Linked DNA regions of Homo sapiens: regions 2, 3 and 4 are each linked to region 1. Evidence: fine-mapped expression QTL. A gene starts in region 1. Each other region holds a variant in brackets. All regions are shown on one strand. Distances are between the middles of the regions. Region 1 holds the start of PRICKLE2 (prickle planar cell polarity protein 2). Region 2 has its middle 42 kb from the start of PRICKLE2. Region 3 holds the start of PRICKLE2-DT (PRICKLE2 divergent transcript). Region 4 overlaps PRICKLE2 (prickle planar cell polarity protein 2).

Evidence for each region. PIP is the estimated chance that this variant, and not a neighbour inherited with it, causes the effect.
Region 2: its variant is fine-mapped to the expression of PRICKLE2 in liver (GTEx, PIP above 0.99).
Region 3: its variant is fine-mapped to the expression of PRICKLE2 in pancreas (GTEx, PIP above 0.99). The same link has a PIP of 0.9 or more in stomach.
Region 4: its variant is fine-mapped to the expression of PRICKLE2 in thyroid (GTEx, PIP above 0.99). The same link has a PIP of 0.9 or more in adrenal gland, caudate, esophagus muscle, lung and tibial nerve.

What each region holds. Positions count from the first base shown.
Region 1 is chr3:64,222,302-64,230,407 of GRCh38, reverse strand. PRICKLE2 (prickle planar cell polarity protein 2) reads left to right here and starts at 4,942. Exons shown (of 8, transcript NM_198859.4): 1 at 4,942-5,498. RefSeq lists a silencer at 4,761-5,055.
Region 2 is chr3:64,263,075-64,271,180 of GRCh38, reverse strand. It overlaps a transcript of PRICKLE2 not described here. Among named protein-coding and RNA genes, the nearest start is that of PRICKLE2, 42 kb to the right of the region's middle. The variant G/A (reference allele first, on the strand shown) is at 4,433.
Region 3 is chr3:64,437,980-64,446,085 of GRCh38, reverse strand. PRICKLE2-DT (PRICKLE2 divergent transcript) reads right to left here and starts at 829. Exons shown (of 4, transcript NR_183714.1): 1 at 679-829. The variant T/G (reference allele first, on the strand shown) is at 4,151.
Region 4 is chr3:64,154,145-64,162,250 of GRCh38, reverse strand. It overlaps PRICKLE2 (prickle planar cell polarity protein 2), which reads left to right. Exons shown (of 8, transcript NM_198859.4): 4 at 2,174-2,311; 5 at 4,886-5,089. Among named protein-coding and RNA genes, the nearest start is that of PRICKLE2-AS3, 29 kb to the left of the region's middle. RefSeq lists enhancers at 4,424-4,924, 4,925-5,426. The variant ATG/G (reference allele first, on the strand shown) is at 3,806.

The sequences.
Region 1 (8,106 bases):
TCTGAGGTAAAACAGATGCAACTTTGATCTCTAATACTCATTTAGGACTATCATAGTTTTTTAAATGTTAAACATTCCTTTGTTTAAAGGCATTATGTGTTTAATAGATTGTATTTTGTTTTGTTTAATGTTTTTACATAGCACAAATTAAAATGGACAGCTATGGCAGACATTACTGGGGTCCTCCATTGTCTGTTTTCCCTGTTCTTTGTGAGCATACACTTCCCAGCCTCCTTGCAGCTGGGTGAGGTCATGAGACTAGTTTGACCACTAGAAGTGATATCATTCATCTCCAGGCTGAGGCACCTAAAAGCCTCTTCAGTTCTCTCTTCTGCTGTTGTTGTAACTTGGAAATTATTCACTGAGATCACAGAGGCACAAGAAGGAAGCAGAGTAGATCCCTGAGTCGCTACTTAGAATGGAGTACCTGGAAAACCTCTGGGCCTCCAACCAACTTTGCCTGAGAGAGAAATCAAACTTTCTTGTGTTAAGCCATTGACATCTGGGATCATATGTTACTGCATCATCACCTATGCTAGACCAACTTACATGACAGTTCTTTGTCAGCTTCCTCTCCCACATTTACTTTATTAGACTTTGAAATCTAAATATCAGGATTACTCTTGAGTAAAATATTTAAAAGCACGCACACACAGAAATGCACACATTTGAAAAGGGAAACCTTATTAGATGAGTGGTTTGAAACTTTGGTAATATCCCTTACAACAATTAGAATTTCCCAATAGCAGGGCCAGAAGGTAGTAATCTAAATGAGCTAGGATGAGTGATGTCTGTCTTTTTAAAGTTCTCCAAAAACTGAAACACTGCCATTTCCTTGAGTGACCCATGTCAGTTCTTATCTCAATATTCAGAAGTCTTCCTTAGGTCCAAGAAAGATTTTAAATGACCTAAAGAGGAATTTAGGACCCTCTTTAGGTCGTTTAAATCCATTCCTTCTTATTTTATACCTGTAGAAACAGAGATTTAAAACTTGTTCATTGCAGCCTTCCTCATTACAGCTCTTCATCTAGGAGGCTACCACCCTTCCTGTCACTTACCCTTCCCTTCTGTAACCTGACCAGTAGAGATGTACTTGACCTTTCCCTGTAATCCTCTAACAAGATGCTGCCTAAAGCTGGCTAGAATGGAAAGATGATTTGATTTTCCAGCATGCATGGAGCTGTCTCTTTGTTATTACCTGCCAGTGTCATGTTGCTGCTGTTTTGCTGTCTTGTGTCCATGCAGATGTCTCTTAATTATGCATTTGTGTTCATAATTTTCCTTCCTACTCATGTTCTTATTCCTGCCTGGAACACCTCTAGCAGAAGGTGAATTTGACTAAGGTCAAATTTTTGCAGCCTTTTTCTACTTCTGGATTTTGTGTCATGCTTAGTAAGGCCTTCCCCCACTATAAAATTGTTTTTTAATTCCAAAAAAGTAAAAGCGTTTTTGACCTTGGGCCTGACCCAGATCATACTTTTCCTGGTTCCTGATCACCTCTGCCATAATTAATTTTGTCTTCCTTGTCCTTTTTCCTATATACTATATGCAATTATGGTCATTTGTATAAATATCCTATCATTCTACCTAAACAGAAAGTTCTGAAGGTCGACAGTTGCATCCTTGTCTCCTGACAAGAGTGTCCTCCGCTTCACAAATCCCTAATAAACATTTGGTTGAGTTTCTCATATGTATTACCTGTTCTTCCCTGCCTTTACTCGCATGAAGTTTGCTGTCATGAATGTGGAATTTCACTGTTTTTTAGAAAAACAATATGAGTTTTGTTCCTATTTACTAAGTCTCTGAAATTTTTAAAGTAGTTTTTTCTCACTTTTTCTAATACCTACCAGTATAATTTGTAAAAAAAAAAACACCTCATTAGAATGGTCTCCAGGATGAAAATAATGACCACAGGGAATTAACAATCTGTGGATTTTGTAATTTTAATATTCTGTGTAAGTGTGATGCATAGATATCCAGCTTCCTCATCACCAAGCTGAGCTCACAGAGCGTGTGCTGGCAAAAGGACTTGGGCAGCATGCTTTTGTGCCATCCCTCTCTTGAATGCAATTAGGCCTTTGAGGACTCTGCATGCCTCCTGCCATAACACACACCCCATTCTACTCTAATTGCCTACTTAATTGTCTTCTCTCTGATTGCCAAGCTCTTTTAAGGCAGGATCCATGTGTATCTTGGTCACCATGTTGTCCCCAGACCCTAGCACAGTGACTGGCAAATAGTAGGAGCTTATTTAATGAGTGAATGGATATATGAATGAATGGGTGAAGCATGTATTCATCTCAAAAATATAGTTGTCTTGTCCTGGTGTATAGTTTCAGAAGAGGGAGCCCGCCTCTTGGTCATTTTTACTCCTTTATTTCCTAGATTCATAGCAGTTCAAAGCATTTGTATTGTATCATATGGAAAATGGCATATCAGTGGCTCACCCACATTAGATAGAACTTTGAGATATGCTCTAGGAATAAAGATGATTTTGCAGTCTTCCCTTTACCGCTTTCTCCCCACCTTTTGAATTTTAACTGGTTACTTAACTAATTTGCGCTGAAGTTAATGGTGGAAGCATGATTGTTTCTATTAATATTACCAATAGCTAACACTTATTGAGTGTTTGCTATGTAACAGGCTCAGTGTTAAATGATTCACATTAATGCTCATTGGATTCTCCCAATGGCCCCATGCAGGTAGGCACTATCATTATGCCCTAGGTTACATATAAGGACCTCAGGCCTCAAGTCATAGACCTAGCAAGTGTCACAGCCAGAGTCTGACCCCAGGCAATCCATTTTAGACTCCATGTTATGATGTTAATTCTTATGAAGTTGGTAGTGATGTGTCACATCTGTTCCAGGTGAAGAGTAATCTCTTGCTATGTTTCAGCTGTCTTCTTTATTTCATTGTTGATCACCTGTGAATTGCCTCTTATATGACCATGCTGATCATGAGTAGATGAGAGAGTAGTGTACCCATTTTTAAGAAACTGAGGCATGGAAAGTTGAAGTGACTTGTTCGTGGCCACACTGGGTTAGAATGTCACTGCTTCCACTTGGCTACTGGGGGCCCCAAACTGTTAGACTTGCTAATTGACTTTTTGAAGGATATTGAGGTCTGGGGAGACCATCTGCCTCCCTACACGCTCTGAGTTCTGTGTGATGGAAACTGAAGGCTGAGTGTTATTCATTTGCTTGTATTTTATTTCTCTTACTGAGAAGTTATTCCAGGTCTCATGATTTTCACCATGAAAGGTCTTCTGGGAACTAGAGAGAAGCATTCTGAAAGAAGTTATTAAGCATTATTAATACAATTACATACAACAAAAGACATAATTTAACTTCCCCACATCCAACAAAGAAATTCATTTGAAGCTTCAGGAACTGCAGCTGGAAGGGCAGAGCTCATCAGAGTGGGTTCCCCAGGCGGGGGAGTGTGGGCAAGGAGCCGTGCTAGCTGCTTTGTCCTTTGGGACACTTCTGTGCATGATGGAATATTCCTCCCTCCCAGCCTCCCCAACCTTTCCCTCACCCTTTACTTTCACTCACAGTGCTTCCTTATCACAGGCACAGAGTCCAGAATATTGCCTGGCTCTTGCCTCTCTCCTGGCCCGGGATACTGCACAGGCAGCATTGAAGGAATATATGATTTTAAACAATTAAAGATGACCATGGAAATACTCAGATGCTAGGAACAGTGATCAGCCTAGTAGATAGTATGCCTCGGTGAATTTTTCTAACTTCATTCAAAATATCAGAAATAGCTATTGAGTATGTGATATTGTGTTAATCTTCACCATAGTTCTATTCAATATTTTACTTTCTTTAATTGCAGTAGCCCATAAGGCCCTTGAAAGCAGAGACTGTGTTTATACCTAGCCTTTAGAGCTGTGCATGGCATAGAGTACGTGCTTAGTAAATATTTATTGAATGAGTGAATGGTACAGATGAGGTTATTGAAGATCCCACAAGTTAAGTTACTTGCCTAAGATCACACTGCTAGCAGGAAGGAAAGGCAGGATTTGAACACAGGGCTCTCCAAATGTATAGATTCCTTTCTTCCAGATTGCTTGGTTAGGCCGCCTAGTGGTGTATAAAAATGGAGCTCGGAGACCCCAAAGGTATTCAACAAAAGCTCTATCTGAGGTCTAGGAAATGTGGATTCTGACCCATCCTTGCTGAAATCCTGGTGTGACTTTAGAAAAGTCCTTTCTCCAGTTGTCTCCATTTTCTAATCTGTAAAATGAGGAGATGGAAGCAATGCTCTCTGAGGGTCTCAGGGTCTTCAGATGCCCTGGGAAGGTTTATGCTTTGTCTTCTTCTGCATGCAGTTGGAATTGGGGTAAGGGGTTAAAGGGCAGCTGACTGACTCACCACCCAAGCACGTGAGGAAAGGAGTCACTTGTGCTTTATTTCGAGGTGCACAAAAACTCAAAGGTGACATAGTCTCAGGCCAAAAAACAAGCAACACCCGAAAATGAAAGTTGAAGAGAGAAGAGAAAGAAAAAAAAAAAGGAGAGGCATTTTTGAAGGCTTGACACAGCATTTAATTAAAAAAAGAGTGCTCTGATTCCACTCCTAGGTTGGTGCAGCATATAATCTGAAACAGGCGCTCAGGTTGATAATTGTGCCCAGATCTGAACCTTGGCACCTAAGAGCACAGCTTTTAAGAAGAAAAAAAATAGGCATGTGTCTTTAAAGCCTCTCTTCTTATATGTGATTTTTTTCATGCTCATTTGGAGGTTACGTAGCTGGGCCTTTGCATCCAGCAAAGGCTTCCTTCCCCTCTCCCTGGCTTGGGGATTATTGATTTGGAAGGCAAGGCTAATTTACATGTAAATAAATCTCAGCACTGGGCAGCAGGATGGGACGTCCAGATGCCGTGACTGACTTGCTGACATCACAGCTTCATTAGCATGCGGAGGATGCAAGCACTGCAACAGCGACTTCTCAGGCACCACCAGCAGCGCCACCGAGAGTTATTATTATTTTTTGACCAAGCAGCACATTTCCTGGTTCAGTGGCTTGAGCTCTGTGAGCAGCTGACTAGTCACCCCGGGTCTGGCTCAGGATCAGCTGGTGACGCTGGGCTGGAGTCTATGACTTCTTCCTTCAGATTGTCATGAAGAAGGGGAGTTAAGAGGAAACTGGGGGTCCTCCGGAAGGCGATCTGAGCACTCAGGCTGATCTAGAGGAAGAGTAGAAGTCATACTTTTTTTCTCTTGCTTGGTGAATTCCCCAGCAGAGTCTGGATCCAGCAGTGCTGTTTTCCCTGAGGGAATGTGGAGCAGCTCGGCTTGAGTCTGTTGCCAGCTTCAGGAAGGGTTCAGACTGAAAAGGGGGTTTGAGGAGAAGATGCTTTGGCTGCCTGAGGTCCTGCTTGCGTTCTTAGAAGTCAGATCCAGGGAGAAAGTGAACTGGGACAATTGACAAGCTCCAAGGGTCTGGCAGAAGCTTCCTCCGAGACTGGGCATTTCATCCTCCCTGGAGGTGGGTAAGAAATTTGCTCTAATTCACAAATTAAACAGCAGTATATTTTCTAAGGAGGATGAGAAAGCCAGATCTAGGGCCTTTGCACTGGGGGAGGATATTGGGTCTTCGTTTTCTTGGCCAGGTAGCATTTTTGGTGGCCCTGCGACCCCTTTTGCCTTTTCTATGCTGATTAGAAAGCTCGATTACAAAGTGTTATGTCACAGCTCTAGGGAGTCCTGAAGAAACGCTTAAATCTTGATGCTTAAGAAGAAGCAGCGTTTCTCTAAAAGTGTAGCTTTCTTTAAAAAACCATAATAATATGGGGAAAGGGGCTAACAGACCAAATACCTGATAGCGTTCATGTACAGTAGTCATTTCAACACATGATGTCAGAAACCATTAGGGGATCTGAGGAACAAGGACTCAGCTGAGACTTCCAGGTAAAGAAATGGCTTTCAAATTATTTAGGTTTAATTTTAGACACTGCTTTCAGATTAGAAATGGTGACAGAGCTTCAGAATATGACTGCATAGCCTGGCTGAACACATGATTCGGTTTGCCCTCTATGCTGGGTTTCTTGAGGGAGTGATCATAGTTAGTTCTCCTCACTCTTGGCTTCTCGAAAACCAATCATAGCATTACTAATTTGCCATGGGGGTCTTGCAATGAAATACAGATTTTTAATCCCATGGTTTTTTGTTATGTGGTCTTGGACTATGCTGGGGTCCAGTGGGACTTTTATGAATCATAAATAATCCAGGCTGGGCCAAATCACACTGAGGTTAGCGATCCATACCAGATGTGATGCCATCCGCTGGTCCAAATGTGGCTCTTGTCTAACTTAGGCACATAGATTATTTCCCCAGTGAGAGAGTTCTGCTTCCCATATCAATGCATGTATGAGCACAGTCAGGGGAGGGCTCCAGTGTGCCATGAATATGTAGACATAGACTGCCGTGTACTGAATCTGCAGCTGGTAAGGCTGTGATTTGCTTTGCCTGCACATCTCTTCCCAAAGAGTGTTTTAAACCATCTCAGTGAGACTTAAACTAAATGAAGCAGCCTTGCCTCTTTGCTAGAGGCCAAATTGGCTGCTGTAATCCTGCTCCTCAGAAGGCTTACTGCCTGCTGATGGCTTTCACAGATGGGTCAGGATGAGGGTCCCCAAGGGCTCCAGAGTAAGTCACAACTTTGACATAATTACCATATTTTGGAAATTTGGATTTTAATGCCTTGAGTGCTTATAAAGGTTTTGCCTTTCCATCAAATGCTCCTTCCCCTTGGGAATTCTGTTTTTCATGTGAAAATTAAAACATACTGGCTCCATCGGGCATCTCAGTCTATAAAGATTCACGGGGCAGCCAGAAAGAGTAAAATAGCATTGTTTGAAATGGTGTGTTTATAAAGATTTACCCATGAAATGTGAGGGAATAAAATAGAAATAGAGGAAGAAAGATGCATTTATGGAAGCTTAAAGAATGAGAAGGGAACTTAGAGGTTAGATAGTATGAGATGATATTTATCCAGGGCTCAGACTCTGGAGCTGGAAAGAGCTGAAGATACTTAAAGCTACCCATTCCTGCCAGTAAAGTGGAGAGAGCAATGGAATCTATAGTTAGGGTGATAGGTGTAAGGATTTAATGAGATGACCTATGCAGAGCACAGTGGCAGCCACATAGTAAATATTCAGTAAATATTAGCTGCTATTGTTGTTGTTGTTGTTGTCATTGTTACCATTTTGTCATTATCATTATAAGTGTTGTTGCTAAAAAACAGTATTGAAAAGGCAACATGTTCACATCCATTTGCCTGCAGAAAGGTTTTGCTAGCAGAAAAGATGCCATCTCTGGTACTGTTATATCCAAATGATTCCCACTCAAAGAAACTTTCCACCCTATTGATTGAGTTGACAGAATAAAGTATATTATCCAGAACTACTGTATTTCACAGAACTGAAAGTGACCAGCTGGTATAATGAAAATCATTTAGAACTAACTGGGGCTTAGGCAGCCTTAAAGAAGGCATCCTGTTTTGGCAGCTGACAAGTCACATGTAGAAAGCTGCGGGGTCCCAGTTGGAATCAATGCATTTCTAGATTTCTCTTCTGCTTCACCTATGCATGTGAGAGACAGTCCTTTTCTTTCTTAATTCTTTTCAGTGCAGATATTGAGCATTTTCTTCTCTATCCAGGGAGGCCATTGAATATGTGCTTAACCTGCTGGTTGGCTCCTCAGAAGTTCCAAGGCTGAATTTTTGCCACCATCTGGGTGCCTTCAGCTTATGGGTTGGCTGCTAAGGGAAAGGAATAGCCCTCCCCTGCCTGCCTGCCTACCATGGCCCAGTCTGTCTGCTTTTGTTTTGTGTCACTGCTATGGCACAATTTTGCCAGGCTCGTGGTCTGCCTCCTTCATGCCGGTGGGCCTACTTCTGTCACACAAGTGGACTGCTGTTTCTCCCTTTCCTCCCAAGATCTTTCTTTTTAATTTTGGGGAATTAGAACTCTGACACAGGGATCTGAAAGACAAAAGTGAATTACAAGAGTGAGAGGAGTCTGCCATAAAATTCTTTCCCAAGAAACTCGGAACTGGGAGTTGGTCGTTCCTGGTTGCTACTGATCTTTAGTAGA
Region 2 (8,106 bases), 41 kb before region 1:
AAAAATTTCAGAAAATTCTCAGCCATCATATCTTCAGTTATTGGTTCTTCCTGATTTCTCTGGTCTCTCCCTATGGGAGTCCTATTACACAGACGTTGGGCCTTCTCATTATATTCTCCATATCTCTTTATCTCTCAGATATTTTTCAACTCTTTATCCTTTTGTGCTTTATTTGTGTAGTGTCGTGAGATCTACGTTTCTTGCTTTACTAGTATCTATTTAACCTGTCCTTTGAGTTTTTAATTTTAGTGGATCTATGGAGAGGAGTAGTCATCATGTCTTGTTCTTTTTAAGGGTTTCAATTTTAGCTTCAGTGTTTTAAATCCTTATAAACTTTCTCATTCCATGTTTCTTTTCAGAATGTCAATTGTTTTATGACCTGTAATTCTTGAGCCTCTTATTCTTTTATTTGTTGACTTGTAACATCAGTTTCTTGGATGTTGTATAATTTACCGTTGGGATCTCATGCTTGTGGGATTGGTTGTAGCCTGGGTTGTAGAAGTGGCCAGAGAAATCTTCATTTGTTTCTATAAGGCATTCCTGGCATGTCACGAACAGGACTAATTTTAATATTAATTTTTTTAGTCAGAGCTTCCTGATTTTGACTTTTGTTATTCCTAGAATCTCATGAAAGGCACAGCCCTAGGATTTCTCATTCTCAGTTAAAACATTTCCCTCTCACCCACAATACAGGTAGAGACAGACAAGTTTTACCTAGGTGGTTGTCAATTTTTCCAATCTATTTGTTCATTGAAGGTGCAGCCCTCAGTGAATATTTTTGGCTTTCTACAAAGGTCTTGTAACAGCTTCCTGCTTCTCTTTGTCCCAAGGCACTGTCTGTCTCCTGTGTGGGCATTACAATCCTAGCCCCTAGGGAACCAAGACAACCCTTTTGTCTGCCACCAACCACTCTTCCCTCTCTCTCATAGCCACAGCATAACTTTGCATGCTTCTTACTCTTGTTTTTAATTACCTCTTTATTTCTTGGTATTTTCCTGTGGTTTTTTTTTTGTTTTTTTTGTTTTTTTTTGTTTTATGTAAGGTCTCATGCTGTCACCCAGGTTGAAGTAGATTGGTGCCCTCATGGCTCAATGTGGCCCTGAATTCCTGGGCCGAACCAACCACCTCAGCCTCCTAAGTAGCTAGGACTACAGGTGCACACCACTGCAACCAGTTAGTTTTTTATTTTGTGTAGAGATGGTGTCTTGCTATGTTGCCAAGTCTGATATTGAACTCACGGCTTCAATGATCCTCCTGGTGTGGCCTTCCAAAGTGTTGGGATTACAGGTGTGAGCCATCGTGCCCAGCCTTCCTTTCTTTATTGTGAGTCAGCTAGGCATTTAAAATAATTTTTGTTATATTTTATCTAGCATGTCTAGGTATTTGAAGAGTTGGAATTTTCAGGTTGTCATCATTTGCCATTTTGCCAGAACCAGGACCTTGTTACAAGCTCATGGTAAAAGGTTCAAATAATATACAAGGACATATGATGAAACGTTAGTGTCCTTATCCTCTTAGATCTGCCTAGGCCTCAAATCACCTTGTCAGTAACAACAACCTTTATCATTTTCTTAGGCATGGTTCTAGAAGTACTTTTTGCATATACAGCATATGTATGTGCACATACGTAATACATGAAGATGTTTTGTGCAAGCAGAAATATGTTTTACTATCTGCACTGTACTTAGCAATGTATTGAGGAGCTCAGTGCATACTGGTGCACTTAGTTCTTCCTCTTCTTTCTCATGACTGTATAGTATTCTATCATATGGATGTATCATAATTTACTAACGTCCTGTATTATTGGATAATTATGTTTTCAGTTATTTTGATCTTATAAACTATCCTACAATAAACATTCCTTTACATATGTCTTTGCTTGTATATCATTTAGCATAATTCACTTCGTCTGTTTCCTTCTCTCCCCTCCTCCGCCTGCCACCACTATGGGTTACTTGTGGTCAAGGACTTTATCTTTCATTGATGATCCTAGTACCTGGCATGGGGCCTGGCACTGAGCTGGCACTTAACTCACGTTTGTTTCATTAATAACTGTGCTCACTACAAAGTCAGATCAGCAGTCAGACTCAGTCCAAATCTCCAGCAAATGTATTTTAATTGCAGTGATAACAACAGCTATTGACTGTTCAGTTGTCCGAGGTTATTGACTGAGTGCCTCCTCTGGACTAAACATGAGCTCATGCAATCTTTACTACAACCCTATGAGATGGTAAATTTCATGATCATGCTTTACAGACAAGGAAACTAAAATGCAGGTTACCTACCTGTAAGAGGGAGAGTCCATATATGAACACAGTTTTGTGTGAAATTAATGCCTGGCCTTTTGACTACTCTCTTAATTAACAATTGTACTGGCATAGCCAACATGGGACATATTTCCATTGTTCATTCTTTTGTGTATTCATTCATTCAATCAATAAACAAACATTTACTGAGAGCTCACGACGTTCCAGGTAGGGAGTGATATGTCTTGATAAAAACATTCCTACCTAGGTAGAATTTACAGTGTAAAGGGAGTGACAGATTAAGCAAAAAAGTGAAAATGTGATGAGTGGCTGAAAAGAGACATAAGCAAAGGCTTTAGGAGCACCAAGAGCAGAGAGCCACGAAGGCCTCCAGTGTCTGTGATAAACTGGATGAGCCTTGAAGGACAGCAGTGGGTTGAGGGGGGCACAGGAGGGGTGAAGCCTAGGATTCCAGCATGCCCCCTGTTCCTTGTGTGCGTGGCACAGTCGAATCTTTCTCTTCCAGCCACTGCCAGCTCTCAGGACCTCTGGTGTGAGGGCCAGAGAGCCTGTGTCCTTCTGCTTTTGAAAGGTGGCTCAGCACTCCATTAGCCCTTTCTAATTTTAAAGTAGTAGCTCCCTTGATTGAAATCTCAATTTGGGAACAGGCCTAGGATTGGCCTGTGGCTCGAGATTTTCACCAATAAGCTGAGTGGGAGGTGGGGAGGTGTCCCTTTAAGCAGCCGGGAGGCAGCCCAGAGAGCTTGGAGCTCCTCTCCCCAGGACCTGAGCGATTTTCCTGGATCCGGAGCTGCGCACAGAGCAGCTGCCGCCCCAGGAATGTTACCTGCCTTGTGCGGAGCCCCTGCAGGGCCCCCTTCGGCTCCGGGCAGTTGGCTGCCGACGCCCCGCTGGGTTCCTTAGCTGCGGCCGCTACCCCTGCCCCTGGGTCTCCAACCCCCTTTCCCCGGCTCCCCCGCAGTTTCCCGGGCCGGCAGAGGCGCCGCAGCGTCGGAGCAATGCAAGGCTAAGCCGGGTAAGTGGCCCCCCCATAGCCGGGGAGCACAGAGGGCGGCGCAGGGGCATGTTTGCTCCTGGTTTCAGGAGCTCCCCTGAAAAAGGGGCCTTGCAGCTGGAAACTAAGCTCTGGGAGAGATGCGCTTTGCCACCCAGACGCTGGGAAGTCAGGAGCCCCGCGGTGGGGACCTGGTGAACTGAGGGTCTGAGTGTCAGCCACCTTTCGCGCAGCCACTTTATTAACCAGCAATGGTAATCATAATATCACGAGGCGATGGTGGTATTATTGTATTAGGACTACTTAAGAGGGAACATGAAAACATCCCTGGACTTGCTTTTTAAATAGCCTTTATTCTCTTAGAATTCATTTTCCCCTAAATATTTAAAAGGTATTTACTGTTAATGACCTAGTTATTTTCTATTCAAAATATTTCTTAACATCTCCAGGAAGATCTACTTTAAAACATGACTTACTTCTTCCCACATACCTTTATATTTTGAGCTTATATCCCCGAAAAGATAAAAGTTGTTTATTTTCCCAGAACTTTAAAAATCCATTTCTTTGCTTCTTGGTGGACTTCGGTAATGAAGCAACTCTGGATTTGTTAATGTGTTCTTTCTGAATTGGGGTAGGTGGAGAGGGCCCTTCTCCTAGCCCTTCCTAGCTCTACATGGGGGAGTGTATAGTTTGGAGATGAGAGAGTTAATTCTTACTTTCCAAGTTGCCAAATGCACCCTCTCAGATGCTGGAAGAGTCAGGACTTGGTGAAGGTTGGGATTACAAATCTGGAGTGCCTGGGCAGCCGTGCCCTGGGAAATTTTAAAACCAAAATAATCAGGAAAGATTGTGGGTAGGTGCTGGGTAAGATTTAAAAGATGAGGTTTCAGCTCCCCCCACCCATCTGTTCACTTGTGTGTACCTAAGCAAGAGGTTGAGAATCGAATGCAGAGGGTCAGTTTACTTTTTTTTTTTTTTAAGATGAGGCAGCTGGAAGACATGCCTTCCAAAATTGGAGCAGAGTCTGATGTGTGGATTGCCAAATTCCATTTCCGCCCATATTAAATTATTTTGGCTTCTAGAAGCCCTTATTTTGCTGGGCCGGCCTTTATTTGCAGTTGTTTAGGTGGTGTGAATCATTTGTATACTTTGAGTTCCCTGCTTTCTGTAC[G/A]CAAATGTTTTTATCTGTGCAGCTAGTTGAGTAATTAGAGACATGGACATGGCCCTGTCTGTACAGACAGAACAAATACCACTTGGGGAAGATCTGGGCCTTTCCTTTTCAAATCATCAATTGCCAAATCTTCCCAGCCTGTTGGGCAATTCAGATAAAGGTGTCAAGTGAGCTGGGCAGTGAAGAATTTATATATGCAGCTGATTCTGCTCATCCTACAATAAAGCATCTTCCCATGGGGCCAAAAAGTGGGGGTTAGGGAGGCATATAAAAATGATCCTGTGTTCTTAGTCACTGACTACCCAGCTCTCTCTGGATTTCTGAGAACCTGCCAGGAGAAACTGTTGACTGGATGGAAGTTTCAAGAAATGCAGAACAGAAATCAGGACAAGCCCTCCTTGAGCAACTTTTATTTCTGTTTGGAGGAAAGGAACACTTTGTTAGAATAACAAATTGTGGCTGCTTTTCAAGACCAGAAAACCGTTCTTCTTCTGAAGGCAGATTCGTTTTAAGAGTGTGAATCATTTGGTTTAGCTTTTTTTTTTTTCTTTTGCGGTGGAGGCTTGGAGATGATTAAACGTCCTGTCTGCAGGAAATTACCAGGAGATTTGAGTATTTTCCTGAATCAGCCTCAGATGGTACACAGCTTTGGGTGTAATACAAGAAAGCTCTGTTACAAGGCAGTCTTTCCTCAGTGATACCCTCAATCTCACACAGGCTTTCAAGCCTCTGCATCAACAAGCCTTTTATTTTTTATTTTCGGGGTTGTACTTCCATTTAAGAAACTGAAATAACTCTCTCATTCCCTCTGTGAGCTTAAGATGGAACTTATTTTTGAGACAGTTTTATCGAGCCCACTTCCCCACTAGCCTCCTCCCACTTAGCTTCAACAGGAAAAACTCTTGGCTTCTTTTCCCAAGATTTCTTTTAAGCCAGAATTGTTATCCTTAGGGACACAGATGTGTCGAGGAATGAGAGGTGCAAAGGTTTGAACTAGCACTCACCAATTTGGTGGTGACATTTATGGTCTTTGTGGAGCTGTTTGCAGAGCAGGCTAAGTGGTCTTGTGTTGGGTTTGCCCTGAAGTACATCAACAATATAGAAAATGGGCAATGAAAAGACGGTAAGAGGCAACTGAGGGACATGCGTGCTGCTTTGTGTAGCTGTGTATGCAGAGATCTGTGGGTTTTTAAAAATAATTTAGAAAACCAAATCTCAGAGATGCTGTGCTCCCCAGGCTGTTTTTCTTAATCTTTCCTGAAAAGTACTCAGTCACATTAAGCACTTCCTATCACTATCATAAAGTAGGAGAGCGCTAGGTGAATATAAACTCTGTGCGATATTCTGATGTCAATGAGAGGAAGCAGAGGGAATGATTTTTTTTAGCTACTAAAACACAGAATGGTAATCCTAGTTGAATATAATGAGACTTTATGGAAATTGTATTGAGGTTTAAATGTGATGTTCCAAAAAAGTTTCTTTGATATTTTTTATTTTCTCAAAATCTGAATGGTGAGGAATTCTTTTCTGGGATACTTAGCATTTGATTGCCATTCAGTTTTTTTTGTTTGTTTGTTTTTTGTTTTTCTTTTTGCTTTGTTTTGTTTTGTTGGTGATGTTTTTTCATATCCTGCTCCTCTGTGTGACCAGCAAAGGAAGGCTCATTTTTGCAAAGATTGTAATCTGGACAACTTCCAGAAGAATGGAAGATGTAGGGGTAGCGGAGGGAACAGACGCAGGTACTGTGGGACTCAATGTCTGGGAAAACTCATGAATGATCTCCCTGCAAGATTAGCCCAGAGGCCTTTGAGAATTGCTTCATATTTGACTTTTAACAGCCAGCCTGTGTAGAGAAATCCTTGTACCTATCACTAGGGTCTCTCCCTCTTCACAAAGCATCTTCCCAGGCAAGATGCCAATCCACAGGGAGCGTATACGTGACATTGCTTATCACATCTTTCAAAGGTTGCTTCTTACTACTTTTTCTTTAAAACAGCTACTATTTGATCTCTTGGGAACATTTGCAAAAGGTTACTCTGCATTCACCCAGGCTGCTGTAATTAGTCACTGGTTTTGTTTTATATTTTCTGATGATTGAGGCTCTGTTCAGGCTTCTGGGGATAAGCAAACATCTGTTGAGTTGGATGTTAGATAAATTCTAATTTTGAACACTAAGTTGTCCAGGCTGGAGAAGAGGTCTCATCTTGCCATATTATAAATGATAACATCAGTAAACAGAATGATGCCTGTTAACTTACTGAGCTTTTGCCAAGCACAGACTTAACGTCTTACCAGTCTTTCTCAGACTTTATAGTGCATAGGGATATCCTTCAGGGAGTCTATTTCATAGGTCTGTAGTATGACCTGGAAATCTGCATTTAAGAAATATCCAGGTGGAACTCTGGACTTTATCTTGAGAAGCACGTCGCTGTTTGCTCTTTATTACTGAAAAACCCTTACGACAACCCTATGAGGGTTGGTGCCATCAGCCAGCCTATTTCACAGATGATGAAGGATAAGCTCAAAGAGGTTTGGTAACTCCCCTGAGACACAAGGCTACCAAGTGGCCATGCGGGGGACCTGGACCTACAACTGTCTAATTCCAAGCATCTACCTGGGATGCTTCTTAAATGCAGCCTGTGCTCTCAAGCATTTGCTCTTGGTGGATTGTTGGCGGGTTGTGGAGTGGGGGGTGGGGTGGGCGGTCTTCTCTTTATAATTTATACTCAGTAACCACCCTTCCCACTGCCCTGCCGCCACTCTGCCGAAGCCTGCTTCTCTAGGATGCTGGCATTCTGTAGACAGCAGTCCATGAGGTCCCCATTTAGACAATCCACTGTGATGGAATTGAGGGAGACCACATGGGGCAGAGGCCCTCGTGGCAACAACTTGAGGAGTGTTCAGCTCATTTGCCTTGGGTTCTTTAAGTTCTGAACCAAGATGACCCAAGATAAGGCTGATTGACTGTGAAGTGCTTTTAATTCCTGCAGCTTTTGGAATTCTTAAGACAGTTATGTTTCCATCAAGGGCCCTTTCTACCTGGATGTAGGTGCCACTTTCTTGCCTCCAATCCATAATGCCTCCCACAGGATCCTTTCACAAGACCTCACCCTACACAGCCCCAGAAAGTTGAAGCCATTTCCTAATGCTCAAGGCCTGAGCTCACTTGCAGCCCTTCCTGCATTCTCTGTATATCCCCCCATTCTGAGTGTAATCCTGTGGAAAGTGAACTCAAAGGGAATATTGTAAAGAGGAGAGGCAGAGACTGAACAAAGCCTCATTTAAGCTTCTTGCCTGATTCTCCCTTGGCCTGACCTGATTTCTCCTAGTCTTTGGGGCACATGGACCAGGAATGATTTTTCTTGCTTAATTGCTGCAGAATTGTGGATACAGGACAGACCACTTAACCTCATGAGCTTCAGCTTCATTATCTGTAAAATGGTATGTTCATGTCGACCCTTTCTCCTTCGGGTACAAGTGATGTAATGTCCAAGAAGGCACTTTGGACTTTGTTTAAACACATTTTGAAAACTTACTCATGTTGCCTTCTAGCAGTGGTTCTCTTACTGTGATATTGGGAATACCTGTTTGGTGAATTGCTCTTCTAAAAAAGAAAACAAAAAAAGGCGCCATGTGTGCGTGGAACATACGATGTTTTACATCTCCCTCTTGAG
Region 3 (8,106 bases), 220 kb before region 1:
AGGCATTGTACAATTACATAGGGGCATAATTCCTCCTCCTCCTCCACTTTCTCTTCCTCTCCCAACACCTAATGAACACTAGATTCTAGGCATGGTACAAACTTTTAAAATAATCCATTTTCGGGGGTGAGAGCGCCGTTCTATAGCTTGATTGTGGTGGTGGTTACAGGTCTGTACGAATTTGTCAAAACTGGCAGAACTGTGCACTAAGAAAGGGTGAATTTACTGTATGTGGATTATACCTTAAACAAACTCAACCCTCATCCTTCCATCTCCACTCCCCTACCCCAGCTACAGCGGCAGGGGGGTGTGAAACGGTCCCTGCCCCTAGGCTGGGGACAAGGGTGAGGGACGAGCCTTCAGGGGCGGGACCAGGTAAGCGCCGGGAGTTGTGCCCAGTGGGCCTAGAAGCCAGGGAAAGGGAGAAAGTGGCCCCAGCCGGGTGCGGGGGAGGGATGGGAAGAGCCGGTGGACCGCGGGGCGAACCCGGGAGGGCGGGGGGATGCCGGGAGAGAGGGAGGGACCTGCGGGCGTGGAGGGAGAGGCAGAGGGAAGGGAGGAGGGGTAGGCGTGCGCTCCGGAGCGAGCCGGGGACTGCAAGGCGGAGACAGCCAGGCCAGCGGCCGCCGAGGGTGCCCGCCCAGGCTACCCGCCCTCCCGGCCGCGGCGCGGACGGACCGACGGACGGCGCTGCGAGCAGGAGGCGTCCGGCCATGTTCAGCCGGAGCTCCCGGAAAAGACTCTCCAGCCGCTCGGTGAGTGTCCCCCGCTCGAGCGGGGCCGATCGCCGGGCACCTCCAGCCGGCCGCGAGCGCCCGCGCGCAGCCCCACTGCGCCCCGCGGCTGCGCACCTGTGGCCCCAGGTAAGCCGGCCCCGCGGGCGGGGCGCGTCCAGGGCGCGAGAGAGCGCTCCAAGGCGCGGGAGGGGTTAAGTTCCGACCCCCCGGCTGGGCGACAGTGAGACCCGAACCGTGGCCCTCAGGGTCACAGTCTGGGGGATCCCTGGAAAGCCCCCTCCCTCCGGGCAAATCGGAATCCCAGCACCAAAGCTCCAGCGTCCAGCCACTTGGAGCTCTAGCGGGGACTTTAGGGCCGTCTTTTGGGGTGTCCTCTGCTGCCCCCTTTCCGGGAGCACCAGCCCGGTCTAGGGCGGGCGCCCGATGCTCGCTTCTTGCGGACTCCAGGGAACTGAAGGGTCTTGCTTTTGTTTCTTAGAAACCCGTGACCAAGGTGTCTGGGGGAGACAAAGCCCCAGCCGTGGTCATTTCGTGGTGGTGTAGTGCCCATGCCGGAGGCAACCTGCCTGGGTCCGCGCACCCTTCCCCAAGCAGGCGGGAGACCACCCCTGGGGCACTGGCAGTGCCCCGCCCCGTGTCCCCCATACAGAAGAGGAGCAGTTGGCTCAAATCACAGGAGGTGGGGTGGGAGGGGCAGGCCATCCTGCCAGGGACACGAGTGGGGCTGTGGAGGGAGACCCCGTGGTGGAGACATGCGTGTGTTGTCTTTTTGTTTTGAAGTTGACCGGACTGGGGCGGATAGAGCGAGGCCAGCCATGTAACGCCTGTGGTGACCAGTGCCCTGGGTTCGCCTTGCATAAATGGAGGTAGGAAGCCGTAAATGCACAACACTACAGCAAGATAAAATATGCAATATGTAATATACATACATATATATATCTATAGATATATATATATTCCCCTCCGCCTTAAATCTCACTTGTAAGTCACATGGAAAGAATGCAAAGGCTGTTTCTTTAAGAGCGGAGCTACATCTGCTACAAATATTGGAGGTGGAAGTGGTGGCCAGACACTGGGAGATGCAGGAGAGCCGGGCTCAAGGCTGCGTTTCACTGATGTGAGAACTGTGGATCCCTAGCACGGGCACTATGTGTCTAGGTAACTCACTCCAAAACAATTCACCCTGGGCAAGGCAGTGTTGCCAAGTGCCACAGTGCTGTATGTGTAGGATTCCCTGGACTAGCTGGTGTTTTCCAGTTGTGTTTTTAATTCAGCGCCTGTAACTCTGGGTCCCAACCGCAAATCCATTGCTGCCCGCCTGGGCCGTGTCAACCCTCTGCGGCGGCCAGATGTTTCTTATTAAATGTGCCTTGAGTGTTGACTTCCAGGCAGCCCCAGCTTGGATTGGAATGATTACGTTTGGGAGACAAGGGAGCTGGTTGCCCTCCCAATGCATCTGGCTGCTGGGGCTCTGGTTGGGAAAAGTTGGGGTGCAGGCTTACAAGCTGTCAGTTTGCTGGTTTCAAGCAAAAGGTGAATCCTCCCTGGCGTCTTCATAAAAAGGAAAAACTGGTGACAGGAGAAAATTGTGCAATATCATAACACATTCTCTCTTGGATTAGCGCATCTTTCCCCCTTTCTCCACCACTCAAGCTGCTTATGAAGAGGGCTTTTTCTGGATGCTAGGCAGAAAAGCCTGCTTTGATTCCACACCCCGCCCCCCGCCCCCCACCCCCACCGCATTAGTGCATCTCTACTTTTCCCCATTTGTAATGTGTGCTGGGCACCCAGTTATAAGAAAACTCCCAACCAGCTCCTTCAGAAATTAAATGCTTTTGTTCCTGCTTCAGATGGGTCTGGCAGCCTCTTTGCCTTTGTTTCAGGGCACTGAGCGCAACCCTTATGGCTCCCGAGCATTTAATAACTTCTGTGTCAGAGTCAAGGCGGGCGACCTTATAAATATGTAATTGGCAGACATAGACATTCATCAGTGGTACCGATGTGGTAGCCCAAATAGGTGTGCTGTAGCCCAGCCCCTTGTTTGTCCCAAATATGAACCTGGGTGAAAAAATGAGAATAGGTGTAGAAGCCTTATTTTGTAAACCAAATCCAGCATGACAAAACTACTGAGTGCTTCCTTTCTGATGCATCTTGTGCTCTAGTGGGGGTGGGAGAGGCAGAGTAATGAACAGCAGAGTAAGTGATTTCCAACTTTCCTTTCCTCCCCTACTCTGCAGCCCTTGGGTCAACTTCTGAACAGGGGCTTTGTGGGGCAGTGGCGCAGGGTGGGTGTGTAGCCTGACTTCTCTCCTTCACTGTGTGATCCCTGATCACCTGTCTGTCACTACTCTCCCTAGTTCCCAGTTTCCCTACTGTTAAGTGGGCATAATAATGGCATTTAATGCAGAGCATGATTGTAGAGATTAAATGAGATCTTGAAAAACACATGCTTTGTCCAGTCCCAGGCATATCATAAATATTTGCTAATTTTGTTAATGATTTTTAGCATCCCCTCAACCACTGCTCAGGAGGGGACATAACTAGTGTATCTGGGGATCCTAGGGGTCCAGGGCCACTCTAGACCTTCATGATCACAGCCTTTTGAAGAATTTTAAGCTGTTTTAATCTAGCTGATTTTGCAAAGGGAAAACAAGTGTTTTATTTTCAGCCCATTATGGAACTATTCTTTTGGAAAGAGACCATTTCAACAGGCTTTACAGATTTTCATACTGAAGCAATTGCCCTACCCCAGCAGAAAGACCACTTTGGCTCCATGAATAGGGTTTTTATGGCACTTCCAGCCATTGCTGGGAAGGCAGCAGCTGCTTGCTCTTATCCCCTCCTTTTCCCCATGGGCATACTTTTGGGTGACCTTTCGGAGAAGAGAGACAACTATTTCTGGGTTACACAGCACGGTCTTCTTTTTGGCAGTTTGAAACCCACTTTACACCCCTCTCACTGGGGCAAGCATGAGCCCCTGGGAGAGAGAGTTGGGCCTGGGTAGGAAGAAAAGGCAGGCCTGACACAGAGGCCAAATGCTGCCTTTCGTCTGACCCAGGGAGAACGGAACTGTTCTCACCCCAAATACCAAGGAACCCTAAGATGATCACTTGTTGCCCTTGTTCACCACATCATCCCCTTCACTGGCCTCTCTGGTCCCCTTCCAGTACTTTGTCCACACAGCAGGCATCTCTTAAAAACAGGATAGAATTGTGTTACTGCCTCCCGGCATGACGGCACTAAAGTTCTAGGGAGGAAGTACGTTGTAAACAAACTTTGCTTCTCTCTGACGTGGTGGGGCTTTGAAGTCCAGACAGAGCAGGGCTGGCATTTGCAATGGCTTTAGCAAGCTGTGTGACCTTGAGCAAATGACTTAGGTTTCCTGAGTTCCGTCTTCCTCACCTGTCAAATTG[T/G]CAGCTCTCTAATGAACAAATATTTGAGGGCTTGCTCTGCGCCAGGTGCTCTGGTGACACAGCAAAGAACAAAACAATATTCCTGCCCTTATTCCACTAATCACATTTTAGATAAAGTAGTCAGGAAAGGATTCTCTGAGAAGGTGACATCTGAGCAGAGACCTAAATGAAGCAAGGGAAGAGTATTGTGCTCGTTCGCACCTGGTGCAGGTACCAGCAACATCAACATCTCGTGGGAGATTGTTAGAAATGCAAAGTCTCTGGCCCTGCCCCAGACCTCCTCAATCCAAACCTGAGCTTGAACGAGATCCCTGGCTGCTGCTGTTACGCATTAAAGATTGAGAAGCACTGAGTTAAAACACCCAGCACTGTGTATGGCAAATTACTTTTCCTACGTCGAGTCTTCCTCTGTGTCAGGAAAGATGCCCATGGTCCTGTTGAAGTCTTGTATATTTTATGGGGATTTTCTTGAGTGATCATATACCCTTTACATTTTTGTTGTCACCCACACTTTTAGGTAGCAAATGTGGGGTTTTTTAGAATTTCTAAAAAGAACAAAAACAAAAAAACCAAAAACCACCAAGACACAGGTATTTATGGGTCTTAGAGTACAAAGGTCTCACAATTGTCAGCAGGACCTTTCTCCTCCACCTGATGTAAGGCAGCTGGGGAGCAAAGGTGGCCACTGCAGGGTGCTCCCTGCAGGTGACCTATCCTGGAAGAAACATCACTTCAGGGTGGCCTAGGGGAGACTCTGTAGGGCTGGGCTGCTGAGGAAATTTTCATTAAGGAAGATTAGGGTATCTTCATGGACTGCAGCCAGAACAAAATCATTAATAACTAAGCACTTAGCTTACCCTGCTACAAGATAGCTTTCTGAGTGGGGGTTAATTGGCCTTGCTTGTTTGCAACCAGTTTGAACAGGGAGAGAAAAACAGCCATTTTTACAGTGAAGATTTGCGTATCTACATACCAAGAACTGATGGATAATAATAGTAATAATTACAGTAATACCAAAACAGCATCAGCAATAAGAACGAGTGCTTGCTTTGTCCGGGATCATGCTTCCGTGTTTTACATACATTTTAATGTAATCCTCACTAAACCCTATAAAATAGATGTGATTATTTTCCTGGTGAGAAAACTGAGGCTGAGGGTTGTTAAGTAACTTAACCCAAGGTCACCTGGCTAGGGAGAATGCTGCTGGGATTTGGCTCCAAACCAAATTTGGCTCATTTTCTTGTGAGTCACTGCCTCTTGTTACTTGCTCTAAAGCAGTGCTCACAAACTGGAAGCCCTTGAGTCAAATCCAGCTTGCAGATAGGTTTCGTTTGATCCATGCAACATATTAAAGAAGGAGGCTTTTTCTAACATAAACCCAGGTTTCCGGCTTCTGTTGAAAAATCCAAAGACCAGGTAACATTAGGGCTACTTTCCTGCATTTCCGACAGTATCTGGCAGGAGCTGAGTAGTTGCCCCTTAGATGGGCGTGACCTCAGTTCACCATCCTCTCCAGCAATCTAGTTGAGTTCAGGGAACTCTTCAAATATTTAGGTTACCTGTCAGGGACTGGAAGTGATTGAAGCTTGCAAATCCTGAATGAGCAATCTCATCTCCCCCAAAGAGAAAGTAAGCTTCTCTATCAGCTACCATTTTAAAGCTTGACAATGCCAGGAAAGTGTTTTACATCTTTTCCACCTTATCATTCATGACAGCCCTAGAAGGTAAGTGCAGTTATTTACATCCATTTTAACAGGTAAGGAAACTGAGTCTCAGAGGAGTTAAGTAATTTGCCTGTGGTTACACAGCCAACTGCTTAATGGTATTTTGTCCCTATCTGACTTCAGAAGTCTGTGTTCTGGGCCGGGACTTCTGAAACTTGCATACAAATTACTGAGGGCTCTTGTTCAAAATTCAGATTCTGATTCTACAGATTTGAGGTGGGGCCTGAGATTTTACATTTCTACCAAGCTTTAAGATGATGCTGTGAAGCTGGTTGAGGGACCACACTTTGAATAGCAAAGCTCTAGACTGGTGTCAGTAAAATACAGCCTGCTGGCCCAATGTGACCCTTTTCCTGTTTTGTATGGCTCATGAGTTACATTTTTAGATGGTTGGGGAAAAAATCAAAAGAAGAATGTAATATTTCACAACATATGAAAATTACATGAAATTCAGATTTTGGTACCCAGAAAAAAGTGTTATCTGAACAAAGTCATACTCATTTACTTACATCTTATCTGTGGCTCAGATATTTAGGTTACCTGTCAGGGACTGGAAGTGATTGGAGCTTGCAAATCCTGAATGAGCAGGTTTTCGTGCTGCAGTGGCAGACTTAAGTAGCTGCAGCCGAGATTGTATAGCCCAGAAAACCTAAAATATTTAGTATCTGGATCTTTACAGAAAATATTTGCTGACCCCTGGTCTGTATCACTACCTAGGGGAACATGCAAATAGCTTCTCTTAGTTTAGAATATAGGGATCTGAGAATCTTTTGGAATCAGGGCTAGAGGAAACACCCCCTCCAACTCAGATGAGAATGGTGGTAAAATCAAAGGCAACCAAAGAGCTAGGGAACAGACCAAAGCATTTTCTAAAGGGCGTGTGGAGATGAGCCTTGCAAGACAAGATCAATGAACCTCCAGTGGATTCTAAGCCCCTTGTAATCCCTTTAACGTTTCAGCTTTGCTGATAAATGTAGATTCAACTTGAGCATTAAAAGATGGGCTTTCCTAACAAGCCTCCTGGAGTCCCACTTTCATGGGCAACTGACATGGAATGCCCAGTGCAGGGGTAGTGTTGTGAGATCATTATAATTATGCAGAGTTGTTTGTCTCCAGACAACGGCTGCCTTTCCAGCCGGGATGCTTTGGCCGGGATGCAGTTGCTGCAGAGGCAGCACTCACTGGGCTAGCCAAGACTGCGACTTGAAAAGCCTCCCTCCTTAGTTGCCTGGGCGATTGTGTTGATTGATGACTGAGGCAGCAATTCGGGGTGATGCCGGCCTGGTTTCCTTTAATGGATTGTAATTTGGCTAAGAAATGGGTTCCCACTGATTATTTTGCTTGGAGAGGAAAAACACTCTGCCTCAGTCACTGACATGCCAAGAAATGGAAAACAAGGAAAGGCGTTTTAGGGGGTGGGGGTGGGGGGAAGCATAGATTGAGTTATTCCTAACATCAAGGCAGGGAAAGATACTTAGCTGATAAGAAGGTTGCAGGTTGGCTCACTTTATGTCATTGGCATTTAATAATACCCCTGATAGAAGTTGAAATACCTTACAGGGTTTTTTTCTCTACAGGAAATATATCAGTTTATGCCAGTATATCTGTATTATTACTTGTTTTTGGAAATAGACATAACTATTTTAAAAGATATTAAAATATCTCACACATGTGCAGAAATTAAAAAATACATATCATAGAGGAGGAACCCCTTCTTTTTCATACCTTCTAGACCAGGGGTTGGCAAGCTGCAGCCTGTGGGACAAAATTAGCCTGCTACCTGATTTGTATGGCCTGCTAGCTAAGAAGGGTTTTCATATTTTTAAATCGTTGAAAAAAAAAATCAAAAGAAGAGTAACATTTTTGTAGCATGTAAAAATGATACAAAATTTCAATTTCAGAGTCCATAAATAAAGTTTCATTGGAACACAGCCATGCCTGTTCATTTAGTAACATCTGAGGCTGCTTTTGCAGTAGCAGAGTAGTTGAGACAGCCCTTATGGCCTGCAAAACTGAAAGTATTTACTATCTGGCTCTATACAGAATCAGTTTGCTCACCCCTAAGCTAAAGATATATGTTGTTTATAGGCTGATATTATTTCCTTAGGTTCATTCAGATTATTTATTAATATTGCTTTAACAGAAAATACACATTCTACATATTGCCTTTTATAGCTTACTTTTTTCGTACTTAGAAATACTTTCTGGACATTTTTCCATGTCAGTATATAA
Region 4 (8,106 bases), 68 kb after region 1:
TTGACTCTGACTGCATTTAAAACAAAAATGTAATTTTTAATTGATAGGAGAAATAACCCCCTTAGAGAGCTGGGCACCAGCTTTCTACCAACTCTCCAACCCACGAGCTGAATCCCAGCAGCTCCGTCCCAGGGGAAATGAGTGCTTTTCAGTCTTATTTTCCCACATTAGAATGAAAGGGGATCATTTGAGAGCCTCAAAAATAAATTTGAGTAAGCAGGACAAAAACTTTAAAACTGAAGCAGTTCCCTAAAAAGAGAGCTATGATCCTCTTTACTGCTGCTTATTTCAGACATCATAAAGCAAATATAAATAATGCTTTCTCCTTTAAAGTTGAGAGCAAGCATTGTAACCTGATGCCTGGTTAACTAATTTGGAAGTGAAAATGCGGGTTTTTACAAGCAGGAAGGGTGTGCCTTCCTTTGAAAGCATGTCCCTAAAATGTCAGTGGTGTAACCATATATTCTGGGCTGTTCAGGTCACTGCAGTTCTCTCTGGGACGTTTACATGGAGACTTTTTTTTTTTTTTTTTTTTAACTCTTTTTATTTGACAGAGAGAAGGGATTGGCTCTTCTCTGATTTTAGTGGTTTGTTGTGTTTATGGTTAACTGTGCTTTTATGAAAAGAGACACCATTCAGATTACAATGTCCCATTGGTAGGAATTGTGTGTGTGTGACCCAGTGGGCAGATTTAGCCTATTTGAAATGGCTCTTTTGAAGACAAAGGGTGATTGTGATTCTAAAGTAAATATTTGACCATTTTCTTTTTTGCATAGATAAGACAATTTTGATATCCACAGCTGTCCTGGTTTTCAAATTAGGATGTGACAGTCCTAGTTCCAAGGTTTCCCTCTAACCATCTGTGTAACAAATCATCCAAGCAATTCACTTAACCTTTCTGATGTCCAGATTACTCCAAAGTATAACAGGAGACGGGATTAGGACCGTGTTTCCCAAAGTGTGGTATATACATGACTCTGAGTGTTATGTGGACATGGCAGTAAATGAAACGAAACCACATATTGAGAGAGTTACTATATTTTAAGTTGTATTGTATTCCTTGTGATAGAGTAGTTGAATAATCAAGGAGGAAATTTCAATTTAGTGCTAGCAGGTGTCTCATATCTCTCTAACTCACACTGGCCTCCACTTTTAAGTAGGAGCGTCAGGGATCTCTGTTTTAGGATTTCCTGCAAGCAAAGTGACCAGCTAGAATCTAACAACATGGTTCTGTTCCCAGTCTATTTAGGTTTCTTCTGGTTTTTTTGTTTGTTTGTTTGTTTGTTTGTTTGTTTTTGTTTTTGTTTTTACGGGTGATATTGGTTTTCCATTTATAGTTATACTTTCTTTTGAAATAAATGCATCCAAGTTTCCAAAAAACTGAGTCAGTATTAAAAACAGCATTGAGTAAATAACAGTGCAAGAATATAGCACAATTCCCAAGGTGTGCATAAGTAAGGGGAGATACTGGATTCAAATTATCTTTAATGTTCCTCCTTTAATTCTCTGAGTTTCTATATTTAACAAGAAGGAAAATGTCTCTTGCAAGTCGACTCAACTGAAGTCTAGCAGGCAGCTTGTTCCTCTCTCTACAAAGATAAACATGCAGAGACTTTTGTGCAGCATCACAGATGCCTGGTCCAACTCCTCAGGCTCACACCTTTGTTTCCCTGTTTTTCCAAAATGAGACGGGAGAACAGAAGCTGTGAGCACGTGGACACCTGCTCTGGCTCACTGACTTAGAGTCATTCTTGGTGTCAAGGATCACTTGCATGGGCACATGGAGATGAAAGTATCAGGTTCCTGCAGTTTGGAAGAAGGAGAACTTCTCAGCTCTTTCCTGGCAGCTGAGCCACCCCAGATGATTTGATCTTAACATGGTGAGCAGAGTGAGGCAGTCAGGATAAGGAGCAGGCACCTTTAGCCTGCCCAAGGCTTGGGATCCAGAATTCAGAGCCTTTGGTAAGCTCTTTTGGCTGTCCGCAATCTTAGTAGAGACTCACCTTAGTAGAGACTCACCTTAAATCTCTCCAAGGCTGTTGTGGTTAAAGTTCAGGCGAGGGCTATAAAACCAAATGAGAGTGTATTTAACGAGAAAACTCAGAGTCATGGGCTTCAGAAATCTTAAGGAGCAAGGGTGACTTTTTCCATGCCATTGTCTGTGTCTATTCAGGTTCGATATTGCAACTCCCTGGATGAGGAAGAGAAGAGGGAGCTGAAGCTTTTCAGCAGCCAGAGGAAACGCGAAAACTTGGGCCGCGGGAATGTCAGGCCTTTCCCAGTCACCATGACAGGAGCTATTTGTGAACAGGTAAGCATGGATTCAGGGGAGTGAAGAGGCATTGTTCTGGCATCTTTTCACCCATTCATTCATCCAACAATTGTTTTACTGAGTGCCTACTATGTGCCTGAGATACAGTAGTGAACAAAAGACGGGAAAGTTTCATCTTGCCCTTCTAAGGAGTTGGATTCTAGGGGAGGAAGTCAGACAATATATGTAATCAACAAAATAGAAAAAGATACAGCAAGGAAGGAGACTTGAATGTACTGGAAGTGTGGGGAGGCTGCAGTTTTAAGGAAGGTTGATGGGGAAGACCCCACTTAGAAGATCTGAGCAAAGATGTGCACAGATGTGCAAGAGGGAGAGAGTCTTGCAGATTTTAGGGCAGAGGGAATGCTAAGGCAGAAGGAATGACCGGCTTAGAGGCCCTGAGACAGGAGGGTGTCTATTATGTTCAACAGTGAGTTGGCCAATGGGCTGGGGCAGAGGGAGTGAAGGGAGATAATTCAGATAAAGTCAGAGTTCTGGGTGAGCCATTGGAAGAATTGAGCAGAGCAATGGCATGATGGATTTATGTTTTAAAAAGAGACCTTTAGAAAATGGAGTTGGCTTGGGCCATGGGTCAGCCTCCCTCCCAGGATCATCCCAGAACGAGAGCCATTTAAAGGGGAGGTAAATGATCTTCTCCTGAGAATTGAGAGTTCCTTATTGAAGTGCATGAAGCCCTTCCGAGTCATGTTGACAGGAGCTATTTGTGAACAGGTGAGAGTGGGTTCAGGGGAGTGAAGAGGCATTCTCCCTGGGACCTCACTGCGTTCAAGATTCTGGATTTCCTGTCTCCTCTGCTCCTGTTGAGTGCTCAGGGTGTGGTGAAGAAGAGTTTTAGAGACTGCAGGGTGGGAACACACCTTGCCCCACCTCTCAGCTGCCACAGGCTTTCCAGTGCTGATCGTCATTCTTGGTACTTCTCTAAGTCCTACAGCTTTTTGAACATTCCTATCTAACTCCTTAAGCTCTGCGTAGACCCCTTGAGAGCTGAAGATATGTTAACTGGATCAAAGAAGAGGAGGTGGGATGCTGCCCAAGGGAAGCAGATGTCATTTGAGGCCCTTTTTTGAGATTTCAGAGGGGTAGAGTGAGAAGGTTCAGTTATATGGGATGGGGTAGCTAATTGACCAGAGATTTGGCAGTGGGATCTTTATTCTTATGAAGTATATCTGGGACCCACCCTTAAGGTACAGGTGGTCAGTGGTTGTGATCTGAGATTCACTGTGCTCCATCCAGGCAAGGTGAAATCCTTGCTCCTCTCAGATCAGTCTCCTGGAACCAGGCAAGCTGAGTTTGCCTAAGGGAGAAGGAAGGTTGGGCATTTTGTGGGCAGGTGCCAAGAATTGTGTAGAATAGTGCCAAGAGTGTGAAGGCAGAAAGAGCTTTCATAAGTTTGACTCATGTTTCTTCCAGATGACCTTGACCGTGTTACTTTTCCTTGGTTTTGTCATCTATAGAATGGATGAATGATGACTC[ATG/G]TGAGGGTTATATAGGATTATGTCTGCATGCTTTAGCTCTGCTAACATTATCACGGAAGGTAAGGATAACATGATGCCTTTCTTTTGTCCAGTCACACACGTGGATGAGTTCCCAGAGACTGTTTGTGAGGTCTTTACTTCATTTTCTAAGATACATTTCAACGCATAGCATGGGAAAGATTTGGTGGTAGCTTCTCTGCTCTTTAGACATTGTCCCCTGAGCTCAGCCACTCTTGTATGACCCTAGAACTATACTCAACCTGTGAACCTCAAGGCCCATGCCATGGTCAGCAGAAGCATCTCCCTAGACCTACTTTCCACATTTTATTCTTCCCTCAGAGTCCCTCAAACCATATTCTTTTTGTCCCAACCCCAACTGTAAGCATAGGTGGCCAGTGATTCTGCCTTGTTTCTTTTAGGATCAAGAGGGAACTTGAGAAAATGAGTGAGAAGGTAGGGAAGGGATAGGAAGAAACCCTTTCCATAGTTTGGCCTTAGAAGTGGTGCCGTGTCAATCAAGACTATGTAGAAAGATGTTAGAGGAAGCAGACTAAAAGCATGCCTGAAAGGCACACAGAGAAGGTAGTTAAAGGTGAGCGTGCTGTTATGTATCCACCCTCCCTCCCATATAAAAGTATAGGTCCCACCTCCTCCAAGCCCCGTCCTCCCACCCACCTCCCTCCCCAGCCACTCCTGGTGGTGTTAAACCTGGCTGTGTCTCTGCATGGAGTTTAAAGTATCTAAAAGATAATGAGGCTTTCCTCTGTGCCAGTTTGCCTCCTGCCTGCAGAGCCCCTGTACGTTATTGTGCTAAAAGAGCTTTTCTTTCTTTCCCACCTTTGTGATTCCTCATTCTCCCAATGACTTTCTCTCTACATTATTTGTAAGCCTTAGGAAAGGAGAGTTCAGGGAGGACAAGAAAAACCTGCCCTGCTGCCTGTGTAAAGCAGGAAGCATAGTGACTGCTTTGAACATAAGCACTCAGTAGCCAGCTAATGGTGGTTGTCCTTTATCATTTATGCACAGCACTGGGAGATGGGGGCTAGTGTGACTACTGATGTTTCTGTTTGCCTCACAGTGCGGAGGCCAGATCAATGGTGGAGACATCGCTGTGTTTGCGTCACGCGCTGGCCACGGCGTTTGCTGGCACCCGCCGTGCTTCGTATGCACTGTCTGCAATGAGCTCCTGGTGGATCTGATCTACTTTTACCAAGATGGGAAGATATACTGTGGCAGGCACCATGCTGAGTGCCTGAAGCCGCGCTGTGCTGCCTGCGATGAGGTTAGAGCAAACTCCAGCAGGTTTACCTGCCCATCACCCCTTCATTGCACCATAGCCAACACATGGTCTTCTGGCTTTCTGCACTGAAGAAAGCCATAGGCAACTTCATTTTCTTGCATTAACCCTTTTGGGAGAGAAGCCCCACCCATCCCTGGTTTCTAGAATGTCTGGGGTTGCGGCCTGCTTTACTGAGCGTGGAGGTCTCATAGCTTCCTGTTGGGAAGGCAGTTTCTGTATCCATGAAGATCCCCAAGTGACATATAACTGGCCCTAAGTAAGTTCAGAACCCTAAAAACAAAACAAAACAAAATTGCATTGTGCATCTTTAGATATTAACCCTAATCTCATGGAATAATCAGTAATGGAGTGCCACTTATATCTTAAAATTGTTTCATTTTCCAAGATTCACTGCTGCAAAATGATTAGAAAAGAGAAAATAGGTAGCATTATTTGATTTTTCTACAGTTTATAAAAGTTCTGAGTGAAAAAAAAATTCAGGAGGCAGATGGATACTTCATTTGGATGTCTCTGCCCCATGCTCTAAGAAGTACCCTATGTAAGAAAGCAGGATAGAACGCAAAACCTCTGCCTGGCCTTCTTCCCCTACTAGAAGCACACCCTACCGTGTAAGCTGACAGAATAGAAAACCTGGTTTAGCTTTATAAGTTGGGAGCAGAAAAAAGAATGTTCTAAATCTGACCACTTTTATGGGAATAATTTGGGTAAAAGTCCTAGACAGAGGTTTCCTCCTGTGCAAAGGAGTTTTTTGCATCTATCTTTCTCTGTAAATAGCAGTGTGGGAGGTAAGTAACACTCCCCTTTTTCAGCCAGACAGCCTACTGTTACATGGGCATTTCTTTCTTACAAACTACCTACGAGGGACTCACTTTCTAGGAGGAAGCTGATCAGGCTCAACTAATTTGAATTCTAACACTAATGGTGATGTTCTGGAGAGACCTTCTAGAAAGATAGCTGGAAAACTAAATTCAGGTCCAACTCTGTGGTTCTAGAACACCTTTTGACCTTCATGCCTCAGTTTCCACATCTGAAAATTGGTGCTCAGAATACAGCTTTGTGTTGTCTAATGGCAATTAGAATATGATTGAAGCACACACTTTGAAATTTGTTTATTGAGATATAATTTGCATAGCATTAAGGACCCTTTTAAAGTAAATAATTCAGTGGATTTTAGTATATTCACAAAGCTGTGCAACCATCACTGCTGATTCCAGACCATTTTCATCAACTAAAGAGAAACTCTTTATCCATTAGCAGTCACTCCTCATTTCCCCCTTTCCCTAGCCCCTGGCAACTTCTAATCTATTTCTGTCTCTGTGGATTTACATGTTCTGGACATTTCATATAAGTGAAATCATATGTGACCTTTCAAGTCTGGTTTCTTTCGTTTAGCGTGTTTCCAATGTTAATCCATATAGTAGTATATGTAAGTACTTCATTCCTTCTCGTGGCTGAATAATATTCAGTTGTATGTATGTATCACATTTTGTCTAGCCATGTATCAATTGATGGACATTTAAGTTGTTTCCACTTTTTGGCTACTCTAAACAACGCTGCTATGAACATTTCTGTGTGTACATATATTTTTAGTTCTCTTGAGTGTATACCCAGGAGTGGAATTGCTGGGTCATATGATAATTCTAAGTTTAACTTTTTGAGGGAATGCCAAATTGTCTTCCAAAACAAGTATAACATTTTACATTCCTGCTATCAATGAATGAGGATTCCAATTTGTCCACTTTCTCACTAATACTTGTTATTATCTGTTTTTTTTTTTCATTATAGCTATCGTAATGGGTATGAAGTAGTATCACATTGAGGTTTTGATTCATATTTCCCCAACAGCTAATAATGTTGAGCATCTTTTCATGTGTTTATTAGATATTTGTGTATCTTCTTTTTCAGAGAAATGTCTGAAAAAATTTTTTTAATTTAAATTTTTTGACTACCTTTTCAATTGGGTTATTTTTCCCTTTTTTTTTTTTTTTTTTTTTTAAGACAGAGTCTCACTCTGTCACCCAGGCTGGAGTGCAGTGGCATGATCTTGGCTCACTGCAGCCTCTACCTCCCAGGTTCAAGCAATTCTCCTGACCGAACCTCCTGAGTAGCTGGGATTAGAAGCATGCACCACCATGCCCAGCTGATTTTTGTATTTTTAGTAGAGATGGCGTTTCACCATATTGGTGAGGCTCATCTCAAACTTCTGGCCTCATGTGATCCACACACCTCAGCCTCTCAAAGCACTGGGATTACAGGTGTGAGCCACTGTACTTGGCCTATTTTTCTCATTATTGAGTTGTAAGAGTGATTTGTATATATTCTGTATACTAGTCCATCATCAGATAGATGATTGGCAAATATTTTCTCCCATTCTATAGCTGTGTTTTCACTTACTCGATGATGTCCTTTGAAGCATAAAGTTTTTAATTTTGATGAAGTCTACGTTATTTTTTGTTGTTTATGCTTTTAGCATCATATCTAAGAAACCATTGCCTAGTTCAAGATCATAAAGATTTACACCTGTGTTTTCTTCTAAGCGTTTTATTGTTTTTTTGCCCCTAGCTCTTTAAACCCATTTGAATTAATTTTTTTTTCTTCGAGATGGAGTTTCACCCTGTCACCCAGGCTAGAGTGCAGTGGCACGATCTCAGCTCACTGCAAGCTCCGCCTCCCAGGTTCACGCCATTCTCCTGCCTCAGCCTCCCAAGTAGCTGGGACTGCAGGTGCCCGCCACCACACCTGGCTATTTTTTTTTTTTTTGTATTTTTAATAGAGACAGGGTTTCACTGTGTTAGCCAGGATAGTCTCAATCTCCTGACTTTGTGATCCACCCACCTCGGCCTCCCAAAGTGCTGGGATTATAGGTGTGAGCCACCGCACCCAGCCTTGAGTTAATTTTTATGTATGATGTAAGGTAGGGGTTTGAATTCATTATTTTACATGAGGCTCTCCTGTTGTCCCAGCTCTGTTTGTTGAGAAAACTATTCTTTTCCCCATGG